2 separate regions of the Homo sapiens genome follow, and region 1 is linked to region 2. A link means that fine-mapping ties the variant in region 2 to the expression of a gene that starts in the linked region. Tissue or cell type: monocytes. Region 2 holds a variant in brackets; the other region holds the start of a gene. All regions are shown on one strand. Distances are between the middles of the regions.

Region 1 (2,903 bases), 24 kb after region 2:
GTAGTCAGTGCTTCTCCGAGGGTACACAATAGGTGCTCACACTGCTGAAAGACGAAAGCATGACAGGGCATTCTACAGCAGCCCTGGTCTTGGGCCAAAACCACAGTGGCATCCTCAGCTCCTTGCTTCCTCCCACTCCGCATCCAATTCACCAGCAGAGCTGATGGGCTCTACCTCCAGAACCCACCAGAATCTTACTGGCCACACCCCCTCCTAGCCCCGTTCTGCTCCAGGCCTCCGGTACCTTGCACCTGATGGCTGCAGCGGCCACCTCTTTGGGCTTCTTCCTTCCACCCTGCCTCCTACAGTCTATGCTGTTGAAATCGAATCACGGGTGTCTGTCTCTGCTCACAACCTTGCAGTGGCTCCCATGACACTCAGAACAAAAGCTGAAGTCCTTCCAGTGGCCCCCCCCCCAGCTGCATGGCCTGCCCTGCTGTCACCTCTCAGACCTCCCCGCACCCTTGCTCCCTCTCCTCTGCTCCAGCTACACAGGCCTTCGCCCCATGGTTCTCCAGGCACACACCGCTGCGGATGCATTCCCTCCTCACGGTCAAAATACATGCAGCTCCCTTTGCAGAACGTTCCCTCAAATACCTGCCTGGCCCACTCTATCATTTCCCTTGTTCTCTGGGTTCAAATGTCACCTCCTCTGAGAAGTACTCTCTAATGATCTGACCTCAAGCAGCCACCCAGGGCCGCCACTTGCCCTCTTTCTTCTTCATTTTGCTTCACCATCTGACATAGTAGATTATCTCTTACTGCCTCTTTCCCCTACTAGTCCAGAGGGAGACATACTATACTGTCGTATCCCCAGCACCCAGGAAGGCTTGGTCCGTTCAGCCCTTGGTCAGGGCTGAATGGATTTCTGTTGGATGAATGAAGGGACGGCAGTTAAAGAGCCAGGTTGCCAGCTGACATTGCCCAATCTTGCTGTGTGGCCTCAGACCCACCCCTGCCCCTCTTTGTGCAGCTCAGAGACAGCCCTCTGTGCTCAGGGAAGGCCTCTTGGATGGACACTCCACCTGCTGATTGTGACAGACCCCAAAGCCGCCCTCTGCCCCCTGCAAACCTCCCATGCCCCGTACCTTCTTCAGCCACTGCGTGTTGTTCTGCAGTGCCTGCTCCAGCTGTTTCACCTGCTGGGTGGGCAACTTCCCCAGGTGCAGTGGGTTGGCCAGTGATTCTCTCTGGAGGGTGTTGGAGTCCCTGGAGACCTCAGGCCCCGGAGGGCAGGGCTCAGACTTGGGCAGCAAGAAGGTGTAGCTACAGTGGCCGTGCTGGACTACAAGTGTCTCGCAGCCCCTATCCGCCTCCTGCCTTGTCTGTTGAGCCACAGACATGGTGGCAACCACAAGGAGGAGGCTGCCCTGCAGCATGGCTAGCTGGGAGAGCATCTGAAGATGTGTCAATGGCGAGGGATGTCTGCTCAGAGCCCTAGGGGCTGTGCCTGGGATGTCCTGCTGCAGCCAACAGTGGCCAGGCTTGCCTGCAGCTGCAGCTACAAACCTCTGTCTGGCCGAGCTCTGTCCAGGCAGCTATTTATACTTGCTCTGAATACCACGGCTGCTCTGCTTGCTTCCTCTCACCGCCTCCCTCCGGCCCCACCCGACACCCTCTCACCTCTATTCTTCACTCCTTCCCTTCCTCCTTCCTCAGTCTTGGTGGCACGTCGCCCTTACCCTAAGCGTGCACCAACCTTGCTCTGTCTGCCTCACCTCTGAGCCCTCTGATTATCCAGTGAGGCCTGGCTTCCCTGCTGGAGGGGAGGGAAGAAAACAGCACACAGACACGCGCACACACTCATGCACACACTCACGAGCACACACTCACACGCACGCTGACACGCACACACATTCATGTACACACAAACGCCAAGCTCCAATGCTGCCCGCTTTGGAAAACCAAATGCAACTTAACTCTCCCTTCCTGTCTCTGTCTTGGTCTCCCTCTTTCCCTCCACCCCCATCCCCTGCCCCCCAAGTCTAAGATCTCAAGTTTCAGTCCCGCTGCCATCCCCTTCTCTCCCCGCTGCACCTTCCTCCCTCTGGTTCCATGTTAGCGCTTGGAGTACAAGTGACCCCCGGAGAGAGCAGAGGGAGGGGAGGAGGCAGAGGGGTGAGGCTGGGGAGGGCCCAGCGAATCCACTTTGCCTCTGGAGACACAGAAAATCCTTCCAAGGTGGGGCAAGTGAGCAACCCAGCTGGGAGTTGCTTCCTGTCCTCTCTTCTCCCTCAGGGCCAGGGGAAAGTGGTATGCCCCAGGATGGCCCTGGCTTGGTTGCTTGTAACAGTAATGAGAAGTTGTCATGTCCTGGGGCAGATTGTCCTGGGGCTGCTGGAGTGGGGATGTGGAGAGGAGGCAGTGGGGAGAGGAGGTTGGAGTGCCAGGAGGCTAACCCTAGATCTCGCTCCCCGACAGCTGGCCACGAGACCTAGGGTGGGCAGCTGTGCCTCTCTGGGCCTCCACACCCTGATCTGTAAACTGGGTAAACCTTATCTCTTGCAGGAGGAATGCGTGTGAGTCCTCAGCATGGGGATGGAGAAGTTTTCAGCTTCTGGGTTCAAATCCTGGCTCTACCATCTACCAGCTGTATGACTTTGAGTAAGTCACTTAACCTCTCTGTGCCTTCATTTCCTCCTGAATGAGGAAAATAATACCACCTACTTCACATGGCATGAAAATTAGGTGAGTTAGAGCAAGGTTGGCACAGAGCGAGCACTAAATAAATATTTTCCGTTGTCAATGTTATAGTTGTCATTGCACCTCCCCTCCCACGACCCACTGGAGCATAAACTCCTCTAGGGCAGGGATTTGTCCCTGGGGGACATGGTCTCCAGGCAGAAGGTGCCCAGGAGTTGGTGGGGCCTTTCCTGCATGGGCTGCCTTTATGTTCTGCCAGC
Region 2 (2,903 bases):
AGGTCCATTGGCCAAGCTGTGTTTTCTATCTTCAGATCCCCTCTATCTGCCAAATGGGGCTGGACTGGCCAGTCTCCAAGGGTTCTCCCAGCTCTGATGTTCTGGGATCCCACATGCAAATGTTCATTTCTTTGACAGGGCTGCTCTCTTTCCCAAGGGCAGGAGAGCTGGTCTGGCATGACACCAGTATGCTGTTGTAAAGGTGAACAGTGTGTTCTCAGGGCTCGGTGCCTGCAGGCAGAGAGCCAGCTCCCCTCCACCATTGCCTCTCCATTCGGCACACATGCTGGCCTCTCACCATGCCCCCCACCCCTGTCCCTGGCTCCTTCCCTTGCCCTCTCACTCAGTCTTTCAGAAGCCAGCTGGACAGCTCTCAGGGTCCTTGGGAAGATGGGTGCTCCCCAGGAGAGGTGGTGACCTTGGCTCGGGCCAGGCTCCAGCCACTTCCTCCTTCATCTCTTCTCCCTTCTTCCATCTTGACTGTTCACTCCCATCCCTTCCTCACCCTGGAGTGTTTCAAAGGGAGCAAGTTCCATTATCACATCCTGGAGCGGGTGCTTGTGGGCGGTAGTAGTACTGGTTAGAGCTGTGTTTCTCCAAGTGTGGTTCTTCCGTCAGCATCAGCTGAGCTCATTAAAAATGTGAATTTCCAGGTCCCACCGCAGACCTCCTGAACCAGAAACTCTTAATGGTGCCCAGCCAACTGTGGTTAACAACACCCCTGGCTGAGTCAGATGCCTGCTCAAGTGTGAGAGCCCTTGATGCAGAGTAGCAGCAGGGACTGAAGACCAGAGAGACCCCCCTCCTTCTTTCCCTGCATCATCAGCCCACCCCCTCCCTGCAGCACACAAACATGCGCTAACAGCTTCCATCTAAAAACTAACTCCACAGCCTCTCTGGCTGCTTCTCCAGTTTCTCTGATCTCATCAACACAAAACTTCTACAAGTTGTCTCCATTTTCTCACCTTCATACCCACCCTCACTTAAAAAACAACAACAACAACATAACGTTAATAATAAAATGATGTTACGTTTCACACATACAAAAAAGCATAGAGGCCAGGTGCGGTGGCTCACACCTATAATCCCAGTACTTTGGAAGGCTAAGGAGAGTGGATCATTTGAGCCCAGGAGTTTGAGACCAGCCTGGGCAACATGGTGAAACTCCATCTCTACTAAAAATACAAAAATTAGCCAGCCATGGTGGCATAAGCCTGTGGTCTTAGCTACCCAGGAGACTGAGGCAGGAGGATCGCTGGAGCCTGGGAGGTGGAGGTTGCGGTGAGCTGAGATGCACCACTGCACTCCAGCCTGGGTAACAGAGTGAGACCGTGTCTCAAAAAAAAAAAAAAAGTATAGAGAATAAATATAGCCCAT[A/C]GTGCTCATCCTCCTGTATACCTCCAGTCATGTCTCTCCATCCTGGGAGGTCCCTTTGCCTTTTGGCGTCTCACTGTTGCCCAGGCTGGAGTGCAGTGATGTGATCACGGCTCACTGCAGCCTGAAACTACTGGCTTCAAACAATCCTCCCACCTCCCAAATAGCTGGGACGACAGGCGAGCACCACCACGCGCAGTTCCCCCCTTCGCTCTTTAATTCACCTTGTCATAGATAGCCCTCCTTGACACTGCCCTCAAGGGACACTCCATCTTGCTTGACATCTCAGGAGCAATCACCTGGATGGCCACTCCCTGTTGCTGGACGACTTCCCCCCAATCCTGGTTTCCTCCTAGCCCCTAACCACCCACTCTCTGACTCCTCCTTTACAGACTCCTACACGGCAGGGCCCCCATGGCCCAGTCCTGGGTCCTTGTCTCTATGTACATTCACTCTCTAGGTCAGGGGTCCTTAATGAAGAAGCCACAGGCTCCATGAACTTGAGTGAGAAAAAAAGATCACATTTTTTGTCCACTAATCTGCAATTAAAATTTGGCATTTCCTTCAATTATGAGCCTAGGTCACAAACCACAGCCATACTAGCAGGTCCTGAGAGTCATTACCAATAGAAATCCCAAATATTTTCATATCACAACACACTCTTACGGTATCTTAAAACATTGTTTTTACTCACCGGGACTTTGGAATTATAGACATCACACCCACCACTGGATAATGCTATGCCTGATCACAGATTTTATTTTTCATATTTTGCTTATGATTTCCATATTACTGAGTGTTCTTATGCTTTGATTTTATGCATTTCTGAGAAAGGATTATTAAGCTTCACCAGGACCAGATGCCAAGAGGTCTGAGGATCCAAATGCATCAGGGCCCTGCCCCAGGGGCTGAGATCGGTCTTTGGACTTCCACATCCCTCTGTGCTAATGGAGCCATCACCATCTCCCACCCAGACTTCTCCCCTGCATGTCCCCAACTCGCCATCTCTGCATGGTTTCCAATGAGCATCTCAAGCCCAGTGTGAAACTCTTCATTCCTCAGCTCCCATCGCCCCTGTCCCTGTAACTCCCACCCCATGCTTCGAAATCTTTCCCATCTCAGGAAATGGCTCCACCCAGTTCTGAAGCCCCAAACCCAGACCTCAATCTTAACTTCTCTTTTTCTTAGCGGCCACACTCAACCCACTAGTAAGTACTGCCCACTGTGATCCCAATTTGGATTTCAAATCTGTTTACTCGCCTTATTCTGGGCCAGGCTGCCCTCCTCTCCATGGGTCTGCCTTTTGTGCCTTCCTGTCTTTAACCCCTCTGTCAGCTCCCAGGAGATTCTTTTTTTTTTTTGCAGTTGCAAGATTTAATAGCATGAAATAGAGTGAAAACAGAGCTCCCATACAAAGGGAGGGGACCCAAAGGGGGTTGCTGTTGCTGGCTCGAATGCCTGGGTTTATATGCCAATCCTTGTCTCTCCCACTGTGCTCTCAGGCAATAGATGATTGGCTATTTCTTTAC

What was found. PIP is the estimated chance that this variant, and not a neighbour inherited with it, causes the effect. A credible set is the group of variants that fine-mapping cannot tell apart.
Region 1: ANGPT4 starts here. The variant in region 2 is the best candidate, but not a certain one, in a credible set for the expression of ANGPT4 in monocytes (TOPMed, PIP 0.50).

The regions. Positions count from the first base shown.
Region 1 is chr20:914,818-917,720 of GRCh38, forward strand. ANGPT4 (angiopoietin 4) reads right to left here and starts at 1,517. Exons shown (of 9, transcript NM_015985.4): 1 at 1,089-1,517. The coding sequence starts at 1,397. It overlaps LOC105372492 (a long non-coding RNA gene), which reads left to right. Exons shown (of 3, transcript XR_937185.3): 2 at 2,509-2,604.
Region 2 is chr20:891,257-894,159 of GRCh38, forward strand. The region is part of intron 1 of ANGPT4 (angiopoietin 4); the gene reads right to left. Among named protein-coding and RNA genes, the nearest start is that of ANGPT4, 24 kb to the right of the region's middle. The variant A/C (reference allele first, on the strand shown) is at 1,378.